Regions from separate parts of the Homo sapiens genome. Here regions 1, 2, 4, 5, 6 and 7 are each linked to region 3. Evidence: fine-mapped expression QTL. A gene starts in region 3. Each other region holds a variant in brackets. All regions are shown on one strand. Distances are from middle to middle.

Evidence for each region. PIP is the estimated chance that this variant, and not a neighbour inherited with it, causes the effect.
Region 1: its variant is fine-mapped to the expression of DRICH1 in testis (GTEx, PIP above 0.99).
Region 2: its variant is fine-mapped to the expression of DRICH1 in cerebellum (GTEx, PIP above 0.99).
Region 4: its variant is fine-mapped to the expression of DRICH1 in tibial artery (GTEx, PIP 0.98).
Region 5: its variant is fine-mapped to the expression of DRICH1 in cerebellar hemisphere (GTEx, PIP 0.99).
Region 6: its variant is fine-mapped to the expression of DRICH1 in uterus (GTEx, PIP above 0.99).
Region 7: its variant is fine-mapped to the expression of DRICH1 in cerebellar hemisphere (GTEx, PIP 0.92).

What each region holds. Positions count from the first base shown.
Region 1 is chr22:23,605,788-23,610,213 of GRCh38, reverse strand. It overlaps DRICH1 (aspartate rich 1), which reads left to right. Exons shown (of 12, transcript NM_016449.4): 12 at 1,446-1,762. The coding sequence ends at 1,450. Among named protein-coding and RNA genes, the nearest start is that of DRICH1, 24 kb to the left of the region's middle. The variant T/C (reference allele first, on the strand shown) is at 1,755.
Region 2 is chr22:23,733,626-23,738,051 of GRCh38, reverse strand. No RefSeq gene overlaps it. Among named protein-coding and RNA genes, the nearest start is that of ZNF70, 15 kb to the left of the region's middle. The variant C/T (reference allele first, on the strand shown) is at 2,655.
Region 3 is chr22:23,630,173-23,634,598 of GRCh38, reverse strand. DRICH1 (aspartate rich 1) reads left to right here and starts at 2,278. Exons shown (of 12, transcript NM_016449.4): 1 at 2,278-2,783. The coding sequence starts at 2,576. It overlaps LOC124905089 (a long non-coding RNA gene), which reads left to right. Exons shown (of 3, transcript XR_007068021.1): 3 at 1,689-1,723. RefSeq lists a silencer at 1,102-1,239.
Region 4 is chr22:23,655,092-23,659,300 of GRCh38, reverse strand. It overlaps the pseudogene GUSBP11. Among named protein-coding and RNA genes, the nearest start is that of DRICH1, 25 kb to the right of the region's middle. The variant C/A (reference allele first, on the strand shown) is at 2,050.
Region 5 is chr22:23,718,777-23,723,202 of GRCh38, reverse strand. No RefSeq gene overlaps it. Among named protein-coding and RNA genes, the nearest start is that of RGL4, 30 kb to the right of the region's middle. The variant C/T (reference allele first, on the strand shown) is at 1,904.
Region 6 is chr22:23,029,279-23,033,704 of GRCh38, reverse strand. No RefSeq gene overlaps it. Among named protein-coding and RNA genes, the nearest start is that of GNAZ, 39 kb to the left of the region's middle. RefSeq lists enhancers at 2,164-2,939, 3,462-4,359. The variant C/A (reference allele first, on the strand shown) is at 2,431.
Region 7 is chr22:24,233,309-24,237,721 of GRCh38, reverse strand. GGT5 (gamma-glutamyltransferase 5) reads left to right here. Exons shown (of 12, transcript NM_004121.5): 2 at 3,718-3,848; 3 at 4,129-4,224. Among named protein-coding and RNA genes, the nearest start is that of GGT5, 9.6 kb to the left of the region's middle. The variant G/A (reference allele first, on the strand shown) is at 2,369.

The DNA.
Region 1 (4,426 bases), 24 kb after region 3:
TGGTGAGGTGAGGAAATCCTCATGACCAAAGAAACATGAGGCCTGAGGACTGGCGGTTGGGCTCAGCCACATGGAGACCACGTCGTGCCCTACAAGAGCAATCTGGTGGTGTGGTGCTGGGGAGGAGAGACGGCCAGGGCAACAGAGCTTGTGCAGGGATTCAGAACCAGAGGGCTCCTCAGAACGGGCATAGGAGATGGTTCGTAAGGACCTGTCCCACTCCAGTGAAGGCATGAGGGGCAGGGAGGGAGGAAAGCAGCCCCACATAGGAGGATGCCCAGGGAGGGGAAGCAGGTCTTGGGAGAGCTAGGTTTCAGTCCAAGCAAGAAAGGAAAGAATGTTCCAGGGAGGGCCTCCAGAGGGCTTGGAGAAAAGGTTGCAGCAGATGGGGTCAGAAAAGGAGTATTCATGGCCTTGAGGGAGAGGTGAGCTGAGCTTCTTGCAGCCCCTGATGCAAACAGGGATGAAGGACATAGTGAGATTAGTCCTGAATCTGAGGCAGAGAGCGGTGAGGAGGCCGTGAGTTTGGGGAAGGGAGGGAAGGGCCTGGCTGGGAGAAGGCAGGGTTCTGGGCCCTCTACAGTCCTGCCAGGGAAAGTCAGAGCCCAGAGAGGCCCAGGGCTCCCTGCTGACACCTGCACAAACAGGTGTACCCCTGGTCAGGGGGTGCTCTGTAGACTGCTGTGGAGTGAGGGAGCAGCTTCTCCTGGGCACAAGACCCCAGGCACCTGCAGGATGCAGGGCTCCAGGCTCCCTCAGATGCCTGCTGATGGGTCTCCTCTGAGGGGCTGTAAACTGGCTTCCTGGGTACCCACAATGTACAAGGCACTTATTTTCAGTATGATGCCCCCGGCACTGCCAAAATCATACCCATTTATGATAGGCACAATTACTCGCCCCACTTTAGAGCTAGTGAAACTGAGGCACTGAGCAGTTAATCAACTTGCCCCAGACTCCACAGATAAACAGTCAGTGTAGAGCTGGGGGTCTCAACACAGCAGCCTCCCTCCATAGTGTGGGCTTATAGCCACTGGCTGTCCCTCTGCCCTTGTCCAAACTCAGCTGTCTGGGGTGTCAGTTTGTGCCTCTGGGCTACAGTTGAATGACCAGTTGCCTCTTCCAGGCTGGCTCCCATACCTCTCCCGACAGCAGTTTCTTAAATCCCAGAAGCTGATAACGGTAAATGGGCCTTGGAGAATGGAGGCAAGGGTGTGGGGCTCAGGACTTCTAGGTCCCAACATAGGCTGTGTTCCTGGCCCTCCCCTTGTAACAGAGGCACCTCTGTCCCTGGCTGATGAGTTTCCGCATCTGTAATTTCTCCTCAGCCTGGACTGCAGAGGCGGGAGCCCAGGGATGCTGGCGTGGAGGCTGCTTAGTGGGATGATGTCATAGTGCACAAAGCTGGGAGCCTGCTCTCACTAAAAAGGGATTATCTCTTCATCCAGGGTGAAGCCCTTCTGTGGAGCTGACCAGGGTGCTGACCCAAAGGGCAGGCCAGCGCGTGCTGCAGGGTCCCCAGCTTTGCCCCTGGAGGTCTCAATCCTCTCTACATTCTGAGGAAAACTCTTGGTCCCAGCAGAGAGAAAAAGTCCAAGGCTGCTTCCCACCCACCGCCAGCACTAGGTTTGGCCTGTACCATCCAGGACCCAGTGCTTCTGGGCCTGGCATTTCTCCTTTGGCAAGAGAGTGAGAAGAGACGTGACTGTGCTCCACGAGCAGAAAGTGCCATTCCCACTTGAAATAAAGAGACTGAG[T/C]GCATTTATTCAGGTGCAGAGGTGGCTGATCAGGTCTGACCCAATGAGGGGCTCAGGGTTTCCACTCAATGACATCGATGGCGATCTGGGTCACCTTCTATAAGGCCTCGCCCTCATAAGCCTTGCTGTCAGAGTCCTCCTCCAGGACACGGAAGGTGTGCATATGGGCCTGCAGGACCTTGCAGCCCTCAGGGGCCTCTGGCAGCATGGTGAGGGCCTTGGTGGCCTTCAGGCACACCCTGCCCATGCATGAGTGTAGCAGCTTCAGGAGCAGGCTGATGGCTTGTGCGTCCAGGGCCACCTACTTCTCGGCAGGCCACCAACACGGAATTTCTAACAGCCTGGGGGGGCCTCTTCTCACCCCCTCTCACCCTAGCCCTCTTTTGACCCTGGTGCCTGCAGAGTCTCAAAGGGAGGTGCCACCCTGTCCCACTGCTGCAGGGATTCCCTGATTCATTCATGCAGCGAGATGCTGAGGCAAGAGCTGGGTTTCCCCACCTCAGCAGTCTTTTGGGCCAGGTAATTCTCAACTTGGGGCCAAAGCTCCCCTGCTGTGACCTTTGGGTCTGGAGCAGCAAACAGAGCAAAGCCTTGTCCTCAGGAGCTCCCCTTGGGGATGACACAGAAAGTGATGGCAAGGATGGTGGTCACAGTGGACATAGGAGGATGCAGGGAGGCTGGGGAGGCTGCATTTTCAGAGAGAAAGTTCTCTCCTGGAAAGCCACTCTCCTGATCCCATGGAAAGGGACCTCTGTGCAAACCTAAGAATGATGGGGCGGGGATGGGGCCTGGGAACATGCATTTCCACAGACCACCCAGGGTCTGGTTCAGGGGCCACACTTGGAGAAATACCCGGGCCTCTAATGAGACTCTCAGAAGAAAGAGAAACCTGGACTTAGGGAAGGCAAGAGGCCCCCCCCCGCCCCCGCCAGCAAGAGGACATGGCCACGGCCAAGGCAGGGACTCTGGGGGTCGGTGACTGGCCCATCCTCACAATGAGGGTCCCAGTGTGGGAACACTCCCCAACCACTGCAAGCTCTGAGTCTTTGTGCTCCCCCAGTTTTGAGGCCAGGATGTAGACTGTGATCCTATGTGACCTGGACTGAGACACAAGACACTGTGCCTCCGTTTCCTCACCTGTGAAGGCAGACATCGCCTCCCTGGAGGGTTGTCTAAATGTGAGGTTTGGAGACAATGCCTGGCACACAGGACACACTCAGTGACCACTGGGTGTCAGGATCGTCACCAGTGCTTCTCCTGTTCTCGCCTTCCTCATGGGGTGGAGGTGCCAGACCCTCTCCTGCATCCTCCTGCAGGCAGGAGACAGCGGGTCCAGGACGAGCTCCCGGAACGCTCCTCCCTCTACAGCTTCCACATCAGTGAGCGGATCAGACCCTTGCTGATGACATCGTGGGCCCCTGCACAACAGGAAAGGGCACTGAGGGTGGACCGGCCACACCCCCTCCCATGCTGGTTGGCCTGCAGGGTGCAGGAAGGATTTTGCAGAGCAACTTGGTGGGTTTGACAGGAGAACTTGTAAGTTCCCCATCACCCCACGAAGCTGCCTGGCCAGGGGCCTGAGAAGCCAGCAGGAGGCTGTGGGTGGGTGACAGCCATGTCAGCAGTTGAATGAGAGGGCAGGCGCAGAGGACCCAGGGAGGGCCAGCCTTTGGTCGCTGGCATCTCAGGGGGCATCTGCCGTAGCAGGGCACAGTGGCCTGAGAGGCAGCAGCCAGCCCTGGGAGATCCCGCACCTCACTGCTGTGGGGCCCAGGCACACCAGGAGACCCTCCGCTCTTCCCTACCACTGCCCCAGAGTAGGGGAGCCAAGAAAGCCCCCGCTTCCCACCCCAAATATTTCAAAGGAGTTGGAGACTCACGCCTGGTCAGACCAGCCTTTGAGAAGAGCTTGGGTTCGACTCCGAGATGGAAGACCTAGAGTGGAGGCCAGTGTCTCACACACCAAAAAGAGCTGCGCCCCAACCGACGCCAATGGGAAGCCATAGGCTCTGGCCAAGGGGTCTTGAAGGGACCTGGGGCTCTATGGGAAGGGGGGCATCACATGGCACAGCTCGGGTACAGGTACTGGGAGAAGTACAATGAGGCAAGGCTCCCCCATAAACAGGCCCCACCTGGCTCCTCCCAGCTGGAGCTGGAAGCCTGGGAGGGAAGTGGTCAGTCCAGCCCCAAAAGCCTGTGGGGCAGGTAAGGGGTGAGAGATTTTATGGAATGTGGAGGCCTGTGGAGGAGACAAGCCAGAGGGTTGAGGAGGAACATCAACCCCTAGAGGGGCCTGGGCAGACACTAGCTTTCACTAAAGGGTTACTATTTTGTCCATCATGAACTTGTTTGAATTAATTTTTTTTTTTTGAGGTGGGGTCTCACTCAAAAAAAAAAATTTTTTTTTTTTGAGGCGGGAGTGCAGTGGCGTGAACTCAGCTCACTGTAACCTTCGCCTCCCAGGTTCAAGCGATTCTCCTACCTCAGCCTCCCAAGTAGCTGGGCTCACAGGTGCACACAATGGCTGGCTAATTTTTTTATTGTAAAGATGGCATTTCGCCATGTTGGCCAGGCTGATCTCGAACTCCTGACCTCAAGTTATCCACCCACCCCGGCCTCCCAAAGTGCTGGGATTACAGGCATGAGCCCATAATTAACCTGTGCCCGGCCTA
Region 2 (4,426 bases), 100 kb before region 3:
TATATTAACTAATTTAACCTCAAAAAGCCATGCTCACCCCTCACTCCCATCTCTAGGAGTTATTAACCATATGTGGAGTGTCATTTCTGGATAGACTAGAGGTCTGCCATTGGGCCCACCTGTCTCTCTTCTTGTCACATTTGGGTTCAGTGCCAAGATCTGCCCTGAGCCCATTCCTCAAGTTACAGCCTCTGACTTCAGGGTCCTAAGCTATAACATGGGGGAATGATGACACTCACAGCCTTGGGGGCCTCAGTGGTATAAGGAATGCAAACATGCTTAGCAAACTATCAGGTGCAGTTGATTATTACACTATTAGTGTTTTGAAGTATTTCTTTCTTTCTTTTTTTTTTTTTTTGAGATGAAGTCTTGCTCTGTAGCCCAGGCTGGAGTGCAGTGGTGCGATCTCGGCTCACTGCAACCAGGATCAAGCGATTCTCCTGCCTCAGCCTCCAAAGTAGCTGAGATTACAGGCACGCGCCATTGCACCTGGCTAATTTTTTTTTTTTTTTTTTGGGGGACGGAGTCTCACTCTGTTGCCAGGCTAGAGTGCAGTGGCGTGATCTCAGCTCACTGCAACCTCCACCTCCCAGGTTCAAGCGATTCTCTTGCCTCGGCCTCCCAAGTAGCTGGGATAACAGCTGGGATAACAGGCATGCGCCACCATGCCCTGCTAATTTTGTATTTTTAGTAGAGGCATGGTTTCCCCATGTTCGCCAGGCCGGTCTCTATCTCCTGACCTCAGGTGATCCACCAGCCTCAGCCTCCCAAAGTGCTGGGATTACAGACATGAGCCACTGCGCCTGGGCCTCCTATGAGTCTTTAATGCCAAGGATGCTTCCTCAGGATAAAGGCTTATGTCCATTTCAGTGTCGACTGTCAGGGACTCAGCTGCAGACTCTTTTGACTCATCTGCTTTTTATTTGTTTTTAATTTTTTTGCAAGCCTTTATGCTGCTTTCCTGTCTTTCTCCTCTTCCTGAGTTCTCTTCCCCATACCTACAGCGTGGCCTCCGCACATACCAAGCTTGCAAGCTTGCTGTTTGCTGCAAAGAAACCTGGACTGACAATCTCTCTTCTGTCATCTGGGCAGCCAGACTGAGTGTCCCCTTCTACCTGGGTGCCTGTGTGCATGTCCTCTAACCCCTAACCCTTTGCAGCTTCTGTTTTTTTTTTTTTTCTTTTTTTCTTTTGTTTTTTTGGAGACAGAGTTTTGCTCTTGTTGCCCAGGCTGGAGTACAATGGCAAGATCTCGGCTCACCACAACCTCTGCCTCCCGGGTTCAAGCGATTCTCTTGCCTCAGCCTCCCAAGTAGCTGGGGTTATAGGCATGCGCCACCATGCCCAGCTTATTTTGTATTTTTATTAGAGACGGGGTTTCTCCGTGTTGGTCAGGCTGGTCTCAAACTCCCTACCTCAGGTGATCCACCCGCCTCGGCCTCCCAAAGTGCTGGGATTACAGGCGTGAGCCACCATGCCCGGCCAGCTTCTGTTTCTTTATGTATAAACAGTACTGTCATGAAGATGCAATGAGATGAATTTTAGCTCAGAGCCTGCCACCTGGTGACTTACCCATGTTAGGTATTGTGGTTACAGCCCTGCTGTCAAACCACTTCTCCAACTCTCTTTCTAGCCTCAATTCATCTGTCAAAGCATTTGGCCCCAGGATTTTGCTGCGTATTCAGAAGTACGACCTCACATCTGCAGAATGCCACTGGCTTTCACACGAGGCCTCCCAGAAAGGGATGCCAGGCCTCAGACACTAGCTGGTGGCTCTCAGGACTTGCCACTCCATTTTCGCATTTTTCAGGACCACATGGCATACAGTTGGTCTCACAGTCTTTCCTGTCTTCCCAGTGGTCAGCTGCAGCCCAGTTCTAGGGCTTCTGTGGGGGAAGACAGGAGAGGGCTTGGAGTCAGGACACTAAAATGTGTCAGACGAAGCTTTGCTTGCAAGGAGCTTACCACTTGGGTGGTGGAGAAGGCCCAGAAGGCACTACTACAGTGCTCCCAAATCAGGAAAAGATCGCTAAATGCCCGTACTACTCAGGATCACATGGGAGCCCAGAGTTGGACACCTGGATCAACTGGGAGCCTACCTGACATTGATGATGTTTGGCTAGAATACTGATGAATGAATGGGAGGTAGCAAGACCGACACTGAGGGAAGGGCATCCCAGGCACAGGGAAGAGCATTTAGGAAGGCTTGAAACAGTTGGATCCATTCTGGGAACTCCAAGTAATTCCATTCTTAAGTTGAGCCAGGGCTAGAAATCGTCAAACCACAACACATTCCAGCCATTGGTCTCTTTTTCTCCCTCTGTTCCATCCCATATAGCTCAATACTATAGCTAGATTTATCTTCCTTCCTTCCTTTCTTTCTTTTTTAAGATGGGGTTTTGGCCGGGAGCAGTGGCTCACACCTGTAATCCCAGCACTTTAGGAGGCCGAGGGGGGTGGATCACCTGAGGTCAGGAGTTTGAGACCAGCCTGACCAACATTGAGAAACCCCATCTTTACTAAAAATACAAAATTAGCTGGGCGTGGTGGCGCATGCCTGTAATCCCAGCTACTTGGGAGACTGAGGCAGGAGAATCGCTTGAACCTGGGAGGCAGAGGTTGCAGTGAGCCCGGACCATGCCATTGCACTCCAGC[C/T]TGGGCAACAAGAGCGAAACTCCGTCTAAAAATAAATAAATAAATAAAAATAAAATAAAATAAATTTGGCTCTTCTGATTTTAAAATTGACTGGGGCTCCCTATGACCTAAAGGACCAAGATCAAACTCCCTCTCTTGACATTCAAAGCTCTTCACAGCCTTCCCCCAAACTCTTTCCACGTCTCCTCCCTACCTTTTGTTATAGTTATAGCCACTTGGATGACTTCCTGTTCTTCAAGCAGGCCAGTCACCCTTTTTGTCCAGACTTCTCCCTCTGCCTGCAATGTTCTTTTCCCCTTCTTCCTTGGGCAAATTCCCCCTATCTTCCAAGACCCAATGCAGAGGACAGGTTTACTAGAAGCCCCTTCAGGGTACTCCCAGTGCCTAGAATCCAGCCTGTCATTTTGGTTGAATAATTAATCAGATCAAGAACATCTTCCCTGAGTTCCCAACAGAGACGCCCCCCCACACGCCCTCGTGCTCCCTGCACTCCTCCTCCATGCTATGTTGGAACTTCTTGAAGTCAGGCTTCATTTCTTTTCTGTTTCCTTCCTTGCTTCCTTCCTTTCTTTCTTTTTTTTTTTTTTTTGAGACAGAGTCTCACTCTGTCGCCCAGGCTGGAGTGCAGTGGCACGATCTCGGCTCACTGCAACCTCCGCCTCCCAGGTTCAAGCGATTCTCCTGCCTCAGCCTCCTGTGTAGCTACGACTACAGGCGCCCACCACCACACCCAGCAGTGGGAGGCTGCAGTGAGCTGTGATGGCACCACTGCACTCCAGCCTGGGTAACAGAGCAAGACCCTGTCCCTAAAAGAAAAAAGAAATGTTTGAAACTTACATTTTATTAACAGCAAAGATAAAGAAGCTCAACTCAAGGAAGAATGAATAACCCCTACCAAGTGATTTGGGAGCAATGACAGATTTTGTTAACTAAAGCAAACTCCAGCAGTAAGGACATGACACACCAAATCCCCAAAAGGGTCAAAGCTCTGGGTCACAGATAAAATCTTCCAGAGCAGTCGTTCTCAGACTGTCATTCTTGGCCATCATAATTATTGCCCAGGAACTTGCTAGAAATGCAAACTTTCGGCTGGTCGTGGTGGCTGACACCTGTAATCCTAGCACTTTGCGACGCCGAGGCAGGCGGATCACCTGAGGTCGGGAGTTCGAGACCAGCCTGACCAACATGGAGAAACCCCATCTCTAATAAAAATACAAAAAAATTAGCTGGGCGTGGTGGCACACACCTGTAGTCCCAGCTACTCAGGAGGCTGAGGCAGAAGAATTGCTTGAACCCGGGAGACGGAGGTTGCAGTGAGCCGAGATCGCACCACTGCACTCCAGCCTAGTGACAATGAGACTTCATATCCAAAAAAAAAAAAAAAAAAAAAGCAAACTTTCAGGACCCACCGGCTTACCAAATAAGCTACTGAGCAGGGCCCAGCCTAGTGCCATTACTTTTAATGACAAAACCCACAATTACTTTTGCACTGATACAATAGTAACATCAAGGATCACCGGTCATAGATCAGCATGACAAATATTATTACAGTAATAATAGGCTGAGCACGCTGACTCATGCCTGTAATCCCAGCACTTTGGGAGGCCAAGGTGGGTGGATCACCTGAGGTCAGGAGTTTGAGACCAGCCTGACCAACGTTGTGAGACCCCGTCTCTACTAAAAATACAAAAAAATTAGCCAAGTGTGGTGGCGGGCCTCTGTAATACCAGCTACTTGGGAGGCTGAGGCAAGGGAATCACTTGAACCCGGGA
Region 3 (4,426 bases):
TTCACTGCTATTTACCCAGTCCTTCAAACTAGAGCCTTAGCAGCCTGTTTTTCCTTTTCCTTCCCCTGTTCTTCCACATCTAATCCTCTAGCACTTTCTGTTCTCTCTGCCAAATGATCACAGAACTTCTCTGTCCACTTCAGTCATTTCTACTTCCTTTGGCCTTATCTGTTCTTCCAGATGAACATAATGTCTCTCTCTCTTTTTTTTTGAGACAGAATCTCTCCCTGTTGCCCAGGCTGGAGTTCAGTGGTGTGATCTTGGCTCACTGCAACCTCCACCTCCTGGGTTCAAGCGATTCTCCTGCCTCAGCCCCTTGGGTAGATGGGACTACAGGTACCCGCCATCATGCCAGGCTAATTTTTGTATTTTTAGTAGACATGGGGTTTCACCATGTTGGCCAGGCTGGTCTCGAACTCCTGACCTCAAATGATCCACTCACCTTGGCCTCCCAACATCATGTCTCTTAATTGGTCCCACTGGTTCCATGAGTCCTTCTCTATTGTGCAGAGAGACCTCACTGCAAACACATCTGATAGAGACTCCTCACCTCTGTGTGGTTCCGTGACTCTCATGTTTCCAGAATAAAACTTAAACTCTACTTCAACTCTACTGCTGGACAGTGAATGAGCCTTTGTATTCCAGGTTCATCCACTGTTTTGCAGTGTAGCCTCAGACAACTGAACTCTAAGCCTTTGTTTGCTCATCTGCCTGAACTCACTGAGCAGTTGTGGGACCTTGGGGAAGTTACTTGACTTTTCCCTCTAGATTTACGCTGTAAGATGTGTAAAATGGGACTATTTCTGAGGGTTAAATTAGTATGCCACAGTTGGAACACTGTCAGGCACATAATGCTTGCCAGATATTGACTATTTGTCTTTGTCCTATGAGGACAATGGTACCCCACTGTGGGGTTCTCAATTTTGTATAAGAAAATAATGTTTTATGATTTGTTAGTAAAAGAAATACCTGAGGCTGGGCATGGTGGTTCATGCCTGTAATCCCAGCACTTTGGGAGGACGAGGCGGGTGGATCACCTGAGATGAGTTCAAGACCAGCCTGACCAACATGGTGAAACCCTCGTCTCTACTAGAAATACAAAAATTAGCCAGATGCGGTGGCGTGTGCCTGTAGTCCAGGCTACTCAGGAGGCTGAGGCTGGAGAATCGCTTGAACCTGGGAGGTGGAGGTTACAGTGAGCCGAGATCGTGCCACTGCACTCCAGCCTGGTCGACAGAGCAATAGTCCATCTCAAAAAATAAATAAATAAGTAAATAAAAGAAATATCTGAATACCCCTGCCATGGAAAGAAGAAACAGAGCGAGAAAAGGGAGTTGGTAGGTCGTAGCATTACAGAACTGGGAAGGATGTGTTCAGTCCCTATTTTATAGACGAGGAGGGAAGTGTGATGTGTCCCAGGGTTTCACTGAGGATACACAGCCATAACTCTCTATTGAGAGTGGGACCAGGGCCCTGGGGGTAGCTATGGTCAAGTTGCAGACAAGAACTAACACTTGTAAGACAGGAGAGAAGCATTTAATTAGAAAAGCAGTAAAAAATTTGTGTATAACTACATTTGGTGAGCAAATGAAAGCTGTCAGACTCAGAAAAACAGAACTGCTGGTGGAACTGACTTTAGTAACTGGGGTTTTCTTTCTTTTGTTTCTTTTTTTTTTTTTTTTTTAAAGACAGTTGCACCTTTGTCACCCAGGCTGGAGTGCAATGGTGTGATCTTGGCTCACTGTGCAACCTCCGCCTCCTGGATTCAAGCGATTCTCCTGCCTCAGCCTCCTGAGTAGCTAGGATTGCAGGTGCCCGCCACCAGGCCGAGCTAATATTTTGTATTTTTAGTAGAGACAAGTTTTCACCATGTTGGCCAGGCTGGTCTTGAACTCCTGACCTCAAGTGATCCACCCCCCCCGCTCAGCCTCCCAAAGTGCTAGGATTACAGGCGTGAGCCACCACTCCCGGCCATACCAGGGTTTTCTATTGAGTTTCTTGCCAAGGGTGACTCGCAATAACAACTCCCCCTGCACTTAGCTCAGGACTGGAAAGCTCAGGCAGCATAGGGTGAATAAAAGCCTGAGTAGTGCAGTCCCCACAGAGGGGCAGGGGGGCCACAAGGTGGGCAGCAGCAGGGACAGGCATTATGAGGCATTGGGGGGGGCTGTGGGGCTGGACATTGTGAGTCACTAGCCTGACCTGGCTGTTTCCTGGTAACCAGGTGACATAGGAAGCTTTGTGGGTTATAAGCATCAGCCAGGGCCAGCAGCCCTCAGTCAGTAGCTCGCAGTGGAGGGAGGAGGAGCTCCAACTGTGCTCTTTGATGGCAGTTTTTGCACCTTTGGGTGCTTGTCATGTTCGTTTATTTTTCAAAGAAGACAGCAGGTCCCTGACCTCATAGACCAGCTAGTTTGGGAGGTGGCGGCAGAATAAGGGCTGAGGACCCAGATCTGCCTGGGGTCAGGCTGCTTCTAAAAGTGCAGGGCCACCCTCAGTAGTGTGGCTGCTAGGGCAGCACAGTTACAATTTCGCTGAAGGCTGAGGCAGGAGTGGAGAGGCATGGAGAGGCCCCATGGGGAATATACTGACCTGTTGTATCAACTCCCACTGTGGCTGGCCCAGGGGGAAGGACGCACCCTGTTATGAATCTGATACTGATATTTATGAGACTGTGGCTGCTGCAACATCAGAATCCACTACTGTAGAGCCTGGCAAGCTGGATGTGGGAGCCACGGAGGGCCAAGACCTGCAGCACATCAGCAACCAAAAGATGCCCACAGGTAAAAAAGCCACGGGTGCCGTTTACCCTCTGGCACACCTCTGGCCACCCCCACCCCCTTCCCTTACCCTCATCCCCAGAGACATCCTCAGCTTCCAGCTCCCTCCTGTCCATAGCCAGCTTTCCCAGGTCTGGGCATGGGGGACAAAGGCTGACTCTGCCTCCTGTCTTTGTCGTTGAGACTTTTTGATCTAGAAAAGGGAGAGCCCTTTTCTCAATGAAAATTCAAATACCCCAATTTTGGAGTCCCCATCCCATTCTCTAGCCTCACCTATCTGGCCGGTTTGGTACCTAAATGAAGGAACCAGCTAAGGGTCAGATTGTTTTTCTTCCATCTCTTAAGGTAGCTTATTTTTTGTAAATTTTATTTATTATTTATTTATTTATTTATTTATTTATTTTAGATGGAGTCTTGCTCTGTTGCCCAGGCTGGAGTGCAGTGGCGGGATCTCAGCTCACTGCAACCTCTGCCTCCTGGGTTCAAGCGATTCTCTAGCATCAGCCTCCTGAGTAGGGACTACAGGTGCCCACTACCACGCCCGGCTAATTTTTTGTATTTTTAGTAGAGACGGGATTTCACTGTGTTAGCCAGAATGGTCTCGATCTCCTGACCTGGTGATCTGCCCGCCTCGGCCTCCCAAAGTGCTGTGATTACAGGCATGAGGCATCGCGCCCGGCTCCTAATTTAATTTTTTTTAAGTTCCGAGGTACATGTGCAGGATGTACAGGTTTGTTACGTAGGTAAAAGTGTGCCATGGTGGTTTGCTGCACCTGTCAACCCATCACCTAGGTATGAAGCCCTGCATGCATTAACTGTTTATCCATATTCTCTCCCTTCCCCTGCCCCCTGACAGGCCCCAGTGTGTATCATTCCCTGTCTAACACCGTACGTATTCTAAGACCACTCCTTTGCTGATGACAAATCTAAGTGATGGTTCGCAGGGGACTCTCTTCCCTGCTTCTGTCTGGAGAGCCTGCCTGGCTTCAGGTTCCTGATAGGAGTGAGGACCTGGAGTGCAGTGTGAGAAACAGATGGCTCAGTGAAGAACTGTCATCATCCACTAGAGTCCCTGGAAACAGCCGTGTCATTTAGATGATGTGGGTTTGTGTGCATGAGGGTTGGGAGATAGCCAGGGGTGAATTAATGTGTAGTGTTTGTAAATGTGTGTTTTCCCCCAAAAATGTGGACCCGCATGCCCAGCACAAGTGCAAGTGTCAGTTTTCTTGAATTCCTGGCCTATGGTGGTCCTCTCACCTCAGCCTCCCAAGTCATGTCATTCTTCTAATAAAAAGGAAGAAAAACTTCAGCACCACCATACACTTTACATAAATGACCTCTTTTTCACTCAACACAGTGTACCTGAAGGTCAGTTTAATATCCCTACTTCTTAGAGAGAGAGAGAGTGTGGAAAGGAATGAACCCAGATTTTGACCTCCTGAATGGAAGAGGCAAAAGTGAACCCAGAAATGGGTCCCGATGTTGATGGTCTGCATTACTCAACCGTGTCATCACTCCACCGTGATATATGACCCCACACCAGGGAGTTCCAGCACCTATGCGTGCCCCTGGTAGTGGTAGTGGATGGCCTATAAGTGTGCCAAACATTGCCCACCATCAGATGGGGCCCCAGTGGTCACATAACT
Region 4 (4,209 bases), 25 kb before region 3:
CTTCTCTACAAAAAGTAAGCAAATTAGCTAGGTGTGGTGGTGTGTTCCTGTAGTTCCAGCTGCTTGGGTGGCTGAGGCAGGCAGATCGCCTGAGCACAGGAGTTGGGGGCTGCAGTGAGCTATGATTACACCACTGCACTTGAGCCAGGGTGACAGAGTGAGACCTGTCTTAAAAAAAAAAAAAAGGGGGTCTTCAAAGACAAGAACATCTGTGCTGTCACGTTGGGTGGATGAGGGGCTGCCAGGTTTGCAATGAATGTTTCCCATTTCTTCTTAGTTTATGGACTTACCATAAACTCAGGATGGCAGTTTGGTGGGTTGGAGAAGGATATGGTGATTGCGGGAGTTACAAGACATTACTTATAGGGGAAAACAGGGTTTTGAAAGGTTAACGCTTAAAAGTGAGAATGGAAAAGGGATGAATGAATGAACAAGATGAGGTGAGATGGAAGAGGTAAAGGGAAAAGGAGAACAAGCAGCTCTTCTCTGCGTGGCGCCTGGGATGAATGGTTTCTGGGGACATCCCTGATGGCAGTTTTGTGGAGAGGCGCAAAACTTTATGTGGTAAGAAATGAGCTGTAGGCCCAGCGCAGTGACCCACGCCTGTAATCCCAGAACTTTGGGAGGCCGAGGAGGGCGGATCACTTGAGGTCAGGAGTTCAAGACCAGCCTGGCCAACATGGAGAAACCTTGTCTCTACTAAAAGTACAAAAATTAGGCAGGCGTGGTGGCAAGTGCCTGTAATCCCAGTTACTCGGAAGGCTAAGGCATGAGAATCGCTTGAACCCGGGAGGTGGAGGTTGCGGTGAGGGAAGATCGCACCTTTGCACTCCAGCCTGGGCAACAAGAGCAAAACTCTGTTTTAAGAAAAAAAAAAAGAAAACAAAAGAAACGGGCCAGGCGGGCTGGGCGCAGTGGGTCAGGCCTGTTATCCCAGCACTTTGGGAAGCCGAGGTGGGCGGATCACGAGGTCAGGAGTTGGAGACCAGCCTGGCCAACATGGTGAAATCCCGTCTCTACTAAAAATACAAAAATTATCTGGGCATGGTGGCTGCTGCCTGTAATTCCAGATACTTGTTAGGCTGAGGCAGAATTGCTTGAATCCAGGCAAGTGAAGGTTGCAGTGAGGCCACTGCACTCCAGTCTGGGCAACAGAGTGAGACTCCATATCTAAAAATAAAATAAAATGGAGGAGGAGGAAGAGGAAGAGGAGAAAAAAGAAGAAGAAACAGCTAGGTGCAGTGGCTCATGCCTGTAATCTCAGCAATTTGGGAGGTGGAGGAGGAGCAGGAGGAGGAAAAGGAAACAACCAGGCCAGTCATGGTGTCTCGTGCCTACGAGGAGGAGGAGGAAGCGGAGGAGGGGAAAAAAAAGGAGGAGGAAAAAGAAACGGAGCAGAAGGAGTTGGAGGAGGAGGAGGTGGAGGAGGAGGAGGGAAAAGAAATGGAGCAGGAGGAGGAGGGAAAAGAAATGGAAGAGGAGGAGCAGGAGGAAAATGAAATGGAGGAGGAGGAGGAGGAAAAAGAAATGGAGGAGGAAAAAGAAACAGGAGGAGGAAAAAGAAACGGAGGAGGAAGAGGAGGAGGAGGACAAAGAAACAGCCAGGCCGGACGTGGTGGCTCACCCCTGTAGTCCCAGCTGCTCGGGAGGCTGAGGCAGAAGAATCGCTTCAACCCGGGAGGCAGAGTTTGCGTGAGCCGAGATCGTGCCACTGCATTCCAGCCTGGAGACAGAGTGAGACTCCATCTCATCTCAAAAAAAACAAAAGAAAACAAAACAAAAACAAAAAAACAGCCAGGAGCCGTGGCTCACGCCTGTAATCCTAGCAATTTGGGAGGCGATAAGAATTATTGAAATGCAATAAGAATTACCGAAATGTTGAACAAAGACACCAAGTGAGCACGTGCTGTTGGAAAAATAGCACCAATACTACACTAGCTCAACACAAGGTTGCCACAATCCTGTAATATATTAAAAATTGGGCCAGGCAAGGGGCCGGGAGGGGTGGCTCACACCTGTAATCTCAGCACTTTGGGAGGCCAAGGCAGG[C/A]GGATCACCTGAGGTCAGGAGCTCCAGACCAGCCTGGCCAACATGGTAAAACCCCATCTCTACTAAAAATACAAAAATTGGCTGGGGGTGGTGGTGGGTGCCTGTAATCCTAGCTACTATGTAGGCTGAGGCAGGAGAACCACTTGAACCCGGGAGGTGGAGGTTACAGTGAGCCAAGATCATGCCATGGCACTCCAGCCTGGGTGACAAGAGCAAAACTTCATCTCAAAAAAAAAGAAAAGAAAAGAAAAACAAAATGGGCCAGGCGGGCTGGGTGCAGTGGCTCATGCCTGTAATTCCGGCACCTTTGGGAGGCTGAGATGGGTGGATCACGAGGTCAGAAGTTTGAGACCAGCCTGGCCAACATGGTGAAACCACATCTCTACTAAAAATAGAAAAATTATCCTGGCGTGGTGGCAAGCGCTTGTAATCCCAGCTACTCGGGAGGTTGAGGCAGGAGAATTGCTTGAACCTGGGAGGTGGAGGTTGTAGTGAGTGAAGATCTTGCCACTGCACTCCAGCCTGGGCAACAGCCAGACTCTGTCTCAAAACAAACCAACACAAACAAACAAAAACAAACCCCAAAACCAAAATTGATATTTCCCGTGTACATTCGACCTTGACTGTTGCTCATTCAACCCAGCCCAACTCAGTGCCCCATCCCCTGGCCCTGAAGAGACCATTCTGGCCCAGAAGTGTCCTGGCTCGGAGCAGCACCTTCTGCTACCACACTGGGCCTCCCTTCTCCTCAGTGCCCAAGGGGAGGCACCTCACTCTGATCTCCCAGTGGCATCCTATTATGCCTGCCAGTAAGGATAGGCGCTTGGTCCTAGAGCAGAGTGGTCTGCCGTTGGACCAGCCCAGCACTCCAGGTGACCTCAGCCTGCCCCAGGCCTTCCTGTAGGTTGGCACTAATTGGTTTGGCTGCAGCCTTGCATATTTAGCAGTTTTTATTACTAATAATACAGGCAGGGTGGCCCAGGACCCCGCTGGGGGAGGTACTGCCAGGCTCCCAGCTGAGGGGCAGGCTGGCTCCAATTCTGACTGGCTGGCCCCAGTGATCAGAAAGATCCAGGCCCCACCTAGTGCTTTGCTGGAGATCTAGGCTTGGTGGGGCAGCTTGTGGGGTAAGGGGCAGGACCAGCTCAAAAGACGGGGTGGGGGCGGAGGCTCCCTCTGCAGGGCAGAGTCCTTTGGCAGCTGGGGCTGTTGGGCATGGAGGGGTCAGTTCACAGCTCAGGGCCAGAGCACGGTAGAGGTCTCTGGGTGCACACAAGAACCAGGAGTGGAGCTGAAACATGTCCTGTCCCCTGCCTGCCCTCCCTTAGTAACTGCTGGCATTTCCCAATTCCTTCCTGAGCACCAGGCACCATGTTATGCATGCAATTTGCAAATGTTACCTGATTGAATGCTCAAAACAAGGCTATCACATAGGTACTGTATTATTTTTCAGAAGATGTCTTGCTCTGTCACCCAGGCTGGAGTGCAATGGTGCCATCTCTGTTCACTGCAACCTCCACCTCCAGGGTTCAGGTGAATCTCCTGCTTCAGACTTTCAAGTAGCTGGGACTATAGCTGCCCGCCACTGCGCCTGGCTAATTTTTGTATTTTCAGTAAAGACAGGGTTTCCCCATGTTGGCCGGGCTGGTCTCAAACTCCTGACCTCAAGGGATCCACCCATCTGGGCCTCCCAACCCTGAGTTTTTATAATAGGCCCCAGGCCAGGTGGTTAACAGAGGTCTGGGGCATTGCAGGGGGACAGAGGAGGACATATGTCCCTATTGGCCATTGTAGAGTCCCTTCCACAAAAAGGATGTCAGTCAAGTGACGTGCCCACCTCCACCCCACCCTCCCCCCCAGTCCTGGGCACTAGGACTACTTCCCAGGTGCCCTGTACCCTTCCCCGATCTGTCCCATGCCCTGGCCTCTGCCCGCTTTCAAAACATAGATGTGGCCAGCGCCTTGGCTTATGCCTATAATCCCAGCACTTTCGGAAGCAGAAGGATTGCTTGAGCCCAGGAGTTCAAGACCAGCCTGGGCAACATAGATCCTGTCTCAACATATTTTCTGCAAAATTTTTGTTTTTCCTAGACAGAGTCTCCTTCTGTCACCCAGGCTGGAGTGCAGTGGCACGATCTTGGCTCACTGCAACCTCTGCCT
Region 5 (4,426 bases), 89 kb before region 3:
TGGCCTCTTTCCCATGTTCCTTCCTTTAGGGTGGGCTGCCACAGGGGGCAGGTGAGCACCCGCTATGTGTTTAGAAACTTCTGTGCACACCCATCTAAGGCTTTCTTCCCTTTTCTGGTGGAGTGCCCCCGAAAGGTCATACTCCCCCATTTTGTCTCTTACTGCACATGCCTGGACTCACTCATCCAATACCTGACATTTTATCAGAAGCCCCCTTGTGCCTCTCCCTTGTGCCTGCATTCAATTCATACTTTAATGCAACAGGTGTGGACCAGCAGGCAATGGCCTTTTCCTGGTGCCAGCTGCCAATTTGTCACTTTTTTTTTTTTTTTGAGACAGAATCTGGCTCTGTCACCCAGGCTTGAGTGCAGTGGTGCGATATCACTGTAACCTTCACCTACTGGGTTCAAGCAATTCTCCTGCCTCAGCCTCCTGAGCAACTAGGACTACAGGCACACACCACCATGCCCAGCTAATATTTTTGTATTTTTAGTGGAGACGGGGTTTCATCATGTTGGCCAGGCTGGTCTCGATCTCCTAACATCAAGTGATCCGCCCGCCTCGGCCTCACAAGGTGCTGTGCCCGGCCAATTTATCCCTTTTAGAGAGGCAATGGGATGATCGCCAAACCATCTGCTGACATTTCTAGTGGGCGAGGGGAGAGCCCTCTCTGCCCCCATCATGCCTATCCTACCTTTTCCTGATGCAGCTCTCAGCTTGACTTTTCCCTTTGGCTTAGTGACTTGTCAGGGTAGGAGGGGTCCCAAGATTTATTTTCTTTTCACAAAGGCAAAAGGGGATACGGCATGTCACATGGTGAAAGAGGGAGTGAGAGAGAGAACAGGGAGGCGCTGCACTCTTATAAACAGCCAGATCTCATGGGAACTACCTGAGTGGGAGCTCACTCATCACCAAGGGGATGATCCCATCATTGCCACCAGGCCTCACTTCCAATTCCGAGAATGACATCTCTTTTTTTTTTTGAGACAGAGTCTTGCTCTCTCACCTAGGCTGCAGTGCAGTGGTGTGATCTCATCTCACTGCAGCCTCTGCCTCCCAGGTTCAAGCAATTTTCCTGCCTCAGCCTCCCGAGTAGCTGGGACTACAGATGCACACCACCACGCCCGGCTAATTTTTTTTTTTTTTTTTTGAGACAGAGTCTTGCTCTGTCACCCAGGCTGGAGTGCAGTGGCACTATCTCGGCTCACTGCAAGCTCCACCTCCCGGGTTCACGCCATTCTCATGCGTCAGCCTCCCAAGTAGCTGGGACTGCAGGCGCCCGCCACCACGCCTGGCTAATTTTTCGTATTTTTAGTAGAGACAGAGTTTCACCGTGTTAGCCAGGATGGTCTCGATCTCCTGACCTTGTGATCCACCCGCCTTGGCCTCCCAAAGTGCTGGGATTACAGGCATGAGCCACCGCACCCGGCCTGTATTTTTTTTTTTTTTAGTAGAATTAAGGTTTTACCATACTGGCCAGGCTAGTCTTGAACTCCTGACCTCAAGTGATCTGCCCACCTCAGCCTCCCAAAGTGCTGAGATTACAGGTGTGAGCCACTGCGCCTGGCTGGAAATCACATCTCAACATGAGATTTGGAGGGCACATACCCAAACCACATTACCCTTCGAGGGAAATTCCGGGCACCTAGCTATCTTGAGAAGTAAATTAGCAACTTGATGAGAAGAAGGTAATAATTGGCTGGGTTCAGTGCCTCACACCTGTAATCCCAGCACTTTGGGAGGTCGAGACAGATAGATCAACTGAGGTCAGGAGTTCGAGATCAGCCTGGCTAATGTGATGAAACCCCATCTCTACTAAAAATACAAAAATTAGCTGGGTGTGGTGACGGATGCCTGTAATCCCAGCTACGCGGGAGGCTGAGGCAGGAGGATTGCTTGAACC[C/T]GGGAGGCGGAGGGTGCAGTGGGCTTAGATTGGGCCATTGCTCTCCAGTCTGGGCAACAGAGCAAGACTCCGTCTCAAAAAAAAAAACAAAAAACAAAAAACAAGAAAAAGTAATAATAGCTCAGAACAACAGCCACCCAAGTCGGTTAGAGCCACAAGATATTTGATCCCCTATAGAAAGTAAAGATAACATCTTGACAAATGTCCCTAAGTTGTTTTTCAGAAGCGCAGACCTCAACCAGATGAAAAATGGCGACAGCTTTCACGTTGACCTCAGATAAGGGTGAACCAAGGGCTGAACTCTGATTGGAGTTCTTTGTTCTAAATTTCTTCCTGAGGGGCTTGGAGGGAATCAGACTCACAGGTGAAAACTTAACATCCCTTCTGCTGACCCCAAGGTTTTAGATAAAGCTTTGCTTTCTTAACCAACTGTAAACGTAAAAAATATTTGAATTCACCAGGCGCGATGGCTCATGCCTGTAATCACAGCACTTTGGGAGGCCGAGGCGGGCGGATCACCTGAAGTCAGGAGTTCAAGGCCAGTGTGGTTAACATGGTGAAACCCTGTCTTTACTAAAAATACAAAAATTAGCCGGGCGTGGTGGTGGGCGCCTGTAATCCCAGCTACTCAGGAGGCTGATGCAGGAGAATTGCTTGAACCAGGTGGCACACGCCTATAGTCCAGCTACATGAGAGGCTGAGGCAGGAGGATTGATGAAGCTCGGGAAGCAGAGGTTGCAGTGAGCCGAGACCAGGCCATTGCACTCCAGCCTAGACGACAGAGCGCGACTCTCAAAAAAAAAAAAAAAAAGAAAAAAAGAAAGAAGGAAAAGGAAAAAAGGAAGGCATCTTCTCTGGCACCCTTTAGTCTTTTTTTTTTTTTTTTTTTTTTGAGATGGGGTCTCGCTCTGTCACCTGGGCTGGAGTGCAGTGGCACAATCTCGGCTCACTGCAACCTCTGCTTCCCGGGCTTTATCAATCCTCCTGCCTCAGCCTCTCATGTAGATGGGACTATAGGCGTGCACCACTCCACATAGCTAATTTTTTAATTTTTTTATTTTTTGTAGAGACAGCGGTCTCGTTATGTTGCCCAGGCTGGTTGCAAACTCCTGGGCTCCAGTCATCCTCCTGCCTCCACCTCTCAAAGTGCTGGGATTACAGGTGTGAGCCACTAAGCCCGTCCTGAATTACTGATTTTTACATACTGTATAAACTTTGGCATCCTACTTTTTCTTACTTTTGTTAAATTTGGCCTAAAGCTGCCTCATCAACAGTGAACTATATCCTAATTTAAGCATGTAAGCATTTTACTAAAGGAATATACAAGTAAAATTTTAAAGAAAGAAAATAGGCTGGGCATGGTGGCTCACTTCTGTGATCCCAGCACTTTGGGAGGCAGAGGCGGGTGGATCACGAGGTCAGGAGATCGAGACCATCCTGGCTAACAGTGAAACCCCGTCTCTACTAAAAATACAAAAAATTAGCCTGGCATGGTGGCGGGCACCTGTAGTCCCAGCTACTCGGGAGGCTGAGGCAGGAGAATGGCCTGAATCCGGGAGGCGGAGCTTTCAGTGAGCCGAGATTGTGCCACTGCACTCCAGCCTGGGCGACAGAGCGAGACTCTGTCTCAAAAAAAAAAAAAAAAAAACTAAATAACTAAATAAGAAAACAAGCATAAACATTTGGGAAAAAGCCTTTAGGCCTTGTCAGTTCCTAGAATGTATTTATTTTCACTATACTGGGGTATCCTTCCAGTATTAAGGTCCATTCTCAGAAGGTGGATTTGGCGAGCATGAAAAAATGGGGTGGGGGAGTAATCGTACAAACAACTGTGTCCAGTCCAGGTTCCTAGGACCAAAGGGACCCCTCTGTATGGCAGAGGCACCCAACAGCCATAACTGATGTGTACCCTTAGAATGACTTTATGGTCGGCCGGGCGCGGTGGCTCACGCCTGTAATCCCAGCACTTTGGGAGGCCGAGGCGGGCGGATCACGAGCTCAGGAGATCGATACCATCTTGGCTAACACGGTGAAACCCCGTCTCTACTAAAAATACAAAAAATTAGCCGGGCGCGGTGGCGGGCGCCTGTAATCCCAGCTACTCAGGAGGCTGAGGCAGGAGAATGGCGTGAACCCGGGAGGCGGAGCTTGCAGTGAGCCGAGATAGTGCCACTGCAGTGCCGCCTGGGCGAAAGAGCAAGACTCCTTCTCAAAAAAATAAAATTAAAAAAAAAAAAGAAGAATGACTTTATGGTCTAAGAAGAATGTGTGTTCGGAGCCCCAAGCTAAGGAATCAGGAATGGCAAGATCCTGGAACGATGCCAACCTATGAAACCCTGAGTCAAGAGGTCAAGCTGGGCACTTGGTTTCTCAGGTCGACTGCTTGGCCCTCTTCCAAGTTGTACTTTCCTTCTTTCCTTTCCTCCTTTATTTCCTGTTCTAAAGTTTTATAATAAACTTTTTTTTTTTTTTAGATACTATCTCACTCTATAGCCCAGGCTGGAGTGCAGTAGCTCAATCTCG
Region 6 (4,426 bases), 600 kb after region 3:
GCATGCTCTCTGAAGCAGGGCAGGAGGGAGGGCTTGGAGAGTTCTCTAATCCAGGAAAGTATGTGCAATGTGCCCGCAACTTCAGACCATGGGTAGCAGGAGAGCCACTGACTGGATCCTCCAGTTTTCTGTGGTGATAGGTTCCAATACCCTGAGGCTGGCATCCCAGGTGGGAGGCAGAGTCCCATTACTGCCTGCCCTCTTGCTCATGCCCTTCCCAGGGAGAGCAAAGAGAGGCAGCTCTGGCATCCCTGAAGCCTAGTGCTCTCCTTCCACATGCATGGTGCTAAGCTGAGTCCTGTTAAGTTGGGTGGTGCAGGGAGCACTGGCAGGTTGGTTTAGAGGACTGAACTCAAGGGAGGAAGCGCTGGCCAGGTGGAGGAGTAAAAAAATATTTCTGGCAAAGAAAACAGTCTCTGCCAATGAAGAAAGGCCAGAGAAGGTACACGACAATTCAGTAATCAGCACTGTGAGCGTTTGGAGTGGCTGGGACCTAGGGCTGTGCATGCAGAGAGTGAGGCCAGAGAGGCAGGCAGGACCAGATCACAGAGCCTCCGGTGCTGTGCTTTTGCGATGCCCAGCTATGCAGTGCTGTTAGGGGAAACAAGATTTAATACAAGACTCAAAAATAAAAAGAAAGAAAATATCTGACAAGCTACACTTTCAGTCTTATTGATAAAATATCGAGCCATTAGTTGGGATCTTTGGTGTTAAGTGTGGCTGAAAGAGATGGTCAAATAATTACCTCCTCATTGCAGGGAAGGTGGAAGGAGCCCACTGCTATGCATCCCCTGTGGGCATGAAATCTCTAAGCATGACGCGTCCGTGTACAGAGGCCACAGAATAATATTTTCCTACAGCCAAATTGTGTGAGAGAGAACCATTTACAATTTTGCATAATCTATGGCATGGCTAAAAGCAGATTACACTACAAAGGGAGGAAAACAAATAAGAGCTCTCTGCCTCCATGAGCAAGAAGGAGCTTGGATCAACCCTGGCCTGGAGACAATCATGTCTCAGAAAGCAAATGATGCCAGGGTGTAAACCCATGAGGTGAAATAGAACCTTCTAGGGCAACACTTGCAAAGACAACTACAATGTGAAGGCAACCCATCACCCTGGTCCATGCGGTGGCCATGCCAACACCCACCTGCTCAATGACTCTCTTGCAAAACATGGTGTTGATGAAAAGGGTCAAACTCTGCAAAATATTTGAAAAGATTTATTCTGAACCAAATATGCGTGACCAATGGCTCATGACACAGCCCCAGGAGATCCTGAGAACATGTGCCCAAGGTGGTGGGGCTACAGCTTGGTCTTATATATTTTAGGGGGACATAAGATATCAATCCATATATGTAAGATGTACATTGGTTCAGTTCAAAAAGGCGGGACAACTCAAAGCAGGGAAGGTGGAGGGGCTCCAGGTCATAGGTGGATTTAAAGATTTCCTGATTGGCAATTGGTTAAAGAGTTATTACCTAAAGACCTAGAATCAATAGAAAGGAATGTCTGGGTTAAAATAAGGTATTGTGGTGACCAAGGTTTTGTCATGTAGATGAAGACTTCAGAGCTCTTATCAGACCTAAAAGGTGCCAGACTCTTAGTTAATTCTCTTGGGTCACAGAAAAGACCTGGCAAGGGAAGGGGACTTTCTACAGAATGTAGATTTCCTTCAGAAGAGACAGCTTTGCAGGGCCATTTCAAAATATGTCAAAGAAGCATGTTTGGGGCTAAAATACTTTATTTCAGGGCCTGCCATCTGTCATGTGATGCTATACTAGAGTCAGCCAGGAATTTGATGTCTTATTGCTACAAGAAGTCTGTATTGTCAGTCTTAAGATCTCTGTTTTAATGTTAATGCTGGTTAGTTATGCTCGAATTCCAAAAAGAGGAGGGAATAATGAAGCATGTCTGACCTCTACTTCCCACCATGGCCTCAACTAGCTTTTCAGGTTTACTTTGGAATGCCCTTGGTAAAGAGGGGTGTCCATCAGTAAGTTGTAGGGCTTAGAATTTTATTTTTGGTTTACATTCTCCTCCTTCTGGCCAAGATTTCCCAGAGAAAACAGCAAGCCACCAAACTTTTATTTCGTCCCACAGCATTGCTGGGGTGGTGTGGCTGCCTGCCATGGGTCCCTTCTGTCTCTAAGTGGGACTCCTACAGCCAAGAGACTTAGAGCTAAAAGACATAATTTAAATGTTCTGAGCCAGACAGGAATAAAGGTGGACAGGCATTCATCAACCCTTAACGTTCTTTTTCTTTTTCTTTTTCTTTTTTTGTTTTTTTGAGACAGAGTCTTGCTGTGTCGCGCAGGCTGGAGTGCAGTGGCACAATCTCGGCTCACTGCAAGCTCCGCCTCCCGGGTTCATGCCATTCTCCTGCCTCAGCCTCCTGAGTAGCTGGGACTACAGGCGCCCGCCACCACG[C/A]CCGGCTAATTTTTTGTATTTTTAGTAGAGGCGGGGTTTCACCGTGCTAGCCAGGATGATCTCGATCTCCTGACCTCGTGATCTGCCCACCTCGGCCTCCCAAAGTGGTGGGATTACAGGCATGAGCCACCGTGCCCGGCATAGGCTGTTGATCTATTTTAAATGACTTTTTGTGCATAGTGTGAAGTAGGGTTTCAGAGTCTTTCTTTTGCATGTGGAAATCGGTGCACCATTCTCCTGCCTCAGCTTCCCAAGTACCTGGGACTACAGGCACCCACCACCACGCCCTGCTAATTTTTTTTGTATTTTTAGTAGAGACAGGGTTTCACGGTGTTAGCCAGGCTGGTCTTGATCTCCTGACCTTGTGATCCGCCTGCCTCGGCCTCCCAAAGTGCTGGGATTACAGGCGTGAGCCACCGTGCCCAGCCAGGTGCTTGTATAGTTTTAGCAGCAGGGCATTGGCAGTGAAAAACACATCGGGCCCAGCAGGATCTCAAATGAGGGAGATTCACGGGCTTTGTCAAATTGTCTCTAGCCTTCAGAATACCATAATTCTGGTTTCCTCAGAAGAAGTAAAGCTATGTGACCTAAATAACAATAATTTGACCATCAAAAAAGAATTTGTGTGTCAGAACAGAAAAATAACCCTCTTCCATTAGAATGCCAACTAAAAACATAAAGAAAATCATAACCTTGTTTGTCTTTAGAGGACTGTTATAGCCAAGAAATAATTCATGATTTAATCTGTGCTCAGAAACAAAGGTCAGGGCTGCAATCTAGTAACAGGTGTGTGAATAGTTTTCCTTTTGAAACATAATTTTTCTCTCTCTAGCCCTGTTTTTCCACTAAAGAGAAATCATGGTAAGGCCAATTTGTGTGTAAGTTAAGTTTTAGGCTTATACTTGGCCTAATTATGTGCATAAAGTTCAACAAGAATTGATTGGCCACATAGGCTCTTTTCAAGTTGGCTTTGCTGGGACTCCTAAAAATATATTATTTAGTCAAAGCCTTGGTAAAATAACCAGTGTCTCCAATTATGTCCTCTTAACCGAACTTATGCAAACAAGTATATTGCCATAAAATAAGGATACTCATGAATAGTTACCGAATTTAGGGGAACTCAGGTAGCAAGAAAGGTAAATTCTGTTCATAAAAGTATACTTCACAATCAGAGTAGCAGCCTTCCAAATAGGATGTCAGTTGTTCACCTAGGAACGGCCATCCGCAAACTAAGCAGCTCTTTGTCAGTCAGGGAAGAGCTATTTATCAAGCACTGTAGAATCTAGCAGCTCCTCATGCAGTGTTAATCCTAAGGGGGAAAAGAAGCTCCCTGCTTGCAAGTATCTTCTCCTTGCATTTTCCAGGAAGCAAGATCTTACATAAACCATTTGTTTTCTCATGGAACTCTTTTGGGCATCATTATTTCCATTACTGCAGGGATAGCTTCAGGTCCCTTATATTTTTACGTTCTTGTTCTAGGAACATTTCTTCTCTATCCCAGACCGTTTTATCTTCCCTGGTGAGAGTGAATCTGGGTTTCCAGCAGGGGGGCTGGGTGAAGGGCCTCAGGCCCTTTTGTCAATCATTATCGTAATTTGCCTCAACATTGCCCCAGGCAATGTCAGCTCTCTCATTTTAACTCCGTGTCTTTTGATTTTTCTTAAATTTCTCCAATCTGGAGCAAATGCAGAAAGCAGAAAACTAAAAACTGGTGTCGGGCTTTATAATGTTGGGGACCAGCAGGGGCTCCCTTTAGCCAATAATTTGACAATCAGAAGAGAACTTGTGTGTCAGAACAGAAAAAGAAACCTATTCCATTAGGGCATCAACTAAAAACATCAGGAAGGGAATTGTAACCTGGTTTGTCTTTAGAGGACTATTATAGCCAAGCTATATATAATAGCCACTATCAAAGCTATTATAACCTTTGATAGTGTTGTAAAGACCTTTGTTTTAACCCCATCAATTTTCATTTTATTTCATTTCTTAATAACCA
Region 7 (4,413 bases), 600 kb before region 3:
ATAAAAATTGTTAGAGGCCGGGTGCGGTGGCTCACGCTTGTAATCCCAGCACTTTGGGAGGCCAAGGCAGGCAGATCACGAGGTCAGGAGTACAAGACCAGCCTGGCCAACACAGTGAAACCCTGTCTCTACTGAAAATACAAAAATTAGCTCTGCGTGATGGCTGGTGGCTGTAATCCCAGCTACTTGGGAGGCTGAGACAGGAGAATTGCTTGAACCCAGGAGGTGAAGGTTGCAGTGAGCCGAGATCGAGGCACTGCACTCCAGCCTGGACAACAGAGTGAGATGCTGTCTCAAATAAATAAATAAATAAATATAAAATAATTTGAGGCCTAGGGATCTGAAATTCTGGGATCTCCTTTATGCATTTGAGTGACTGAGATGATTTGAAGCTGGATCCAGTGCTCCTGAGGGCTGCTCTATTTCTAGTTGACTCCTAGAGTAAGAAACCTGCACCCCACGTGTGGGGCATTATGGCATCCCCTCCCTCAGCACATGAGTAGGTCAACAGCACTGCTCTAGACCAGGTGTGGTGGCTCACGCCTATAGTCCCAGCTACTCAGGAGACTGAGGCAGGAGGATTGCTTCAGGCCAAGAATTTGAGACCAGCCAGAGCAATATATTAGGTTGGTACAAAAGTAATTGCGGTTTTTGCCATTAAAAGTAATGGTGACCCTGTCTCAGAAAAATAAAAAGCAAAAAAAAAAAAAAAAAGAGAGAAAAGAAAAAAAGAATCCCTGATCTATTTCTCAGCCTCCTCTTCAGGATTGGCCGTCACCTTGAGGGGAATGCTGGCCTTGCCTGTCTCCAGCCCTGTACTTCTCTGCCTCCTATGCCTTTAAGCACATGTTTTCTATTTGCTGGGCTTTTCTAGTTCTCTGAGGGAAGTGTGGTCTGAATTACAGTCTCCCATTACCAGGAAGTCTGATTTACGTTTAACAGATTTTTTTTTTTTTTTTGAGATGGAGTCTCTCTCCGTTGCCCAGGCTGGAGTGCAGTGGTACAACCTTGGCTCACTGCAAGCTCCGACTTCCAGGTTCACACCATTCTCCTGCCTCAGCCTCCTGAGTAGCTGGGACTACAGGCACCCGCCACCATGCCCAGCTAATTTTTTGTATTTTTAATAGAGATGGGGTTTCACCGTGTTAGCCAGGATGGTCTCAATCTCCTGACCTCATGATCTGCCTGCCTGGGCCTCCCAAAGTGCTGGGATTACAGGCATGAGCCACCGCGCCCGGCCTTAACAGATTATTTTTTTAAAATGTAAGGGAGCAAGGCCAACGCTGGGGCCTGGGTAGGAGGCCATTGCAATAACCCAGCTGAGAGAGGTTGGTGGCTTGGACCAGTGTGGTGGAGATGGAGGTAGAACCTGCATCCAGAGTCACTGGTGGGTTGGATGTGGGGAAGGAAGAAAGTGACCAATCCAGGATGGCTCCAGGGTGTAGGCGCTGAGCAAAAGGGGGAGTGGTTGTGTCAATTTCTAAGACAACGAGGACTAGGAGAGGAGCCATTTCGCAGGGACGGTTGGAAGGAAAATCAAAAGTACAGTTTAGGTCATGGTATGTTTGAAATGTTTCTTAGACACCCAGAGTGGGTACCTTGTGCATAGCTGGGTATAAGTGTCTCGAGTGTAGGGAGAGGACTGGCGGAGTTAAAGTCGGGGAGTTACCATCACACAGGTTGCATCTCATGCCATGAGCCTGGATGGACTCACCCAGGGAGAAGATATAGATGCACAAGGACCATGGACCAAGCCTGGGGCCCCCAACATCAGGAGACCAGGGAGGTGGGACGAAAACCAAAGCCTGGCAGGGTGGGCGAGGTGGGTGCAGGGACCTGGCCCATTCCCTCTTGGGGCTTTGGTTTCCCCATCTGTAACCATTTACCCCATTTTGCCCTGGAAGCCAAGACAACTGACTAGGCTGGAAGCAGACAGGTTGGGGAAGCAAGGGTGCACTCCATTTAGTTAGGAAGTGAGGCCTTTGTCTGGGATGGGAGTTTAAAGTGTTTTTTCCCCCAGTTTGTCATTTGGCTTTGTTTATGGTGTTTTATTCTTATAAAAATTAGTGTTTATGCCTGACTTGTTTATTTCATTTTCTGGCTTTGTGCTCTCTTTCCTGTTCCAAGATTACATGTGTCCCTGTGGTGCCCATGTGTGCCACGTGTGGGCCCAGAGAGGGACATGTGGCTCAGGAGCTGGGGTGGGTTTGTGTCCAGATGGACATGCTAGGTCAGGACAGACACCTGAGCCAAAGGAGGGTGCTAGGGCCAGAGGTCCCACGGGGTGGGTGCAGGGACCCAGGTCCATTCCCTCTTTGGGCCTTGGTTTCCCCATCTGCAACTGGGGCTTAAATGCTGGCTTCTGGCC[G/A]GGCACAGTGGCTCACGCCTGTAATCCCAGCACTTTGGGAGGCCGAGGTGAGCAGATCATCTGATGTCGGGAGTTTGAGACCAGCCTGACCAACATGGAGAAACCTCGTCTCTACTAAAAATACAAAATTAGTCAGGCGTGGTGGTGCATGCCTGTAATCCCAGCTACTCGGCAGGCTGAAGCAGGAGAATCGCTTGAATCCGGGAGGCGAGGTTGCAATGAGCCAAGATAGTGTCATTGCACTCCAGCCTGGGCAAGAAGATTGAAACTCTGTCTCAAAAAAAAAAAAAAAAAAAAAAAAAAGCTGGCTTCTTGAGGTGCTGGGGAGGAAGGATTCCTGGGTGTTAGGGAAGAGGTTGACCTCAGTGAGCTGTGCAGGCCTGTGCCCCAGGGACAGGGATCATCATAATGTAGGCCAGGCTGACCAGCCCTCAGTGCTAAAGGGCCCACCTCTTGCTGCCCATGGACAGATGGGGAGGGGTAGGCCAGAGCATTTATTTTCTTTCTTTCTTTTCTTTTCTTTTTTTTTCTTTTTTGAGGCAGTCTTGCTTTGTTGCCCAGGCTGGAGTGCAGTGGCATGATTTCAGCTCACTGCAACCTCTGCCTGCTGGGTTCAAGCAATTCTCCTGCCTCAGCCTCCTGCGTAGCTGGGATTACAGGTGCCCGCCATCACATTCAGCTAATTTTTGTATTTTTAGTAGAGACGGGGTTTCACCATGTTGGCCAAGCTGGTCTTGAACTCCTGACCTCAAGTGATCTATCCGCCTCGGCCTCCCAAAGTGCAGGGATTATAGGCATGAGCCACCACACCCAGCCTAGGCCAGAGAATTTCCATAGGCTCAGAGTCCCAAGAGAAGTTTTGGGGTCCATCAGCTCAAGCCCTATGCCCTGCTGGCAGGGAAGGATCCTGGGATCACCTGCCAAAGGCCAGCCTTGAAGTAGTTGTGGCCAGAGTGTCCCCAGTGAGATGGGGAGTGGAGTCCCAGGGTGGGCTCCTGAGGCCACTGTGAGGGACTGAGAGGTGGCCGAGGCCTCGTTCTGCCTGTAGCATATGAGCTGGTGCTGCTGGGAACAATGGCAACAGAAGTACTTTGCAAACTGAGAAGCACCTTGTATATGGCAAAGGTCAGTGTAAATGGCATCACACTTTGCAACCGTAGTGTGTTGTGGACCTGTGAGCAGCTGGATTTGATGGGGAAGCCTGGTTGTGTTCTGCAACCTAATCTGCGGTTTGGTGGCAGCCGACGTGCCGCCTCCGTCACCATTCTCCAATGAGTGCCAGCTGAGCAAGCCTGGTGGGGAGGCAGGGGGAGGGGAGCCCCACAGCGACTCTGTGCCATGTCCCCTAGAGCCATCCTCCAGCAGCAGGGCTCACCCGTGGATGCCACCATCGCGGCTCTGGTCTGCACCAGCGTCGTCAACCCTCAGAGCATGGGCCTGGGCGGAGGGGTCATCTTCACCATCTACAATGTGACAACAGGTGGGCCCACATGTGAACTGCCATGGGGAAGATGGGCTTGTCCACACCACTGCGTAACCCCTTCTCCAGCCAGTCCCATCAACTCAAGCCCGTTTCTGGGTGTTCTTGGGCCCCCTGCCCTGCCCCATTTGCCTCAGCTGTGCAAAGCCCTTGTGTCAACTCCTGTCCCTGTGTTAGCCCAGAGTCCATCTCATAATGCAGAGATGGAAACTGAGGCCTAGAGCAGGCCAGGGGCTGTCTGCAGGGTCCATGACCACTCACCTGCCCTGCCCTACTCCAGGGAAGGTGGAGGTCATCAATGCCCGGGAGACGGTGCCGGCCAGCCACGCCCCGAGCCTGCTGGACCAGTGTGCACAGGCTCTGCCACTGGGCACAGGTGACGCCCCATGGAGGTCCCCCACTCCCACCCCCCAGGCCACTAGGACTAATCAGAACACCCCCGCAAAGGAGCAGCGCCTCACGGACAGGCTGTGACTCCCTGGCACGGGGGGACACGGAGCCTGTGGGGAACCCCCAGCCCCAACCTGCAGGGATTGAGAAGGTCCCCCTTGGGAACGGGCTCTCT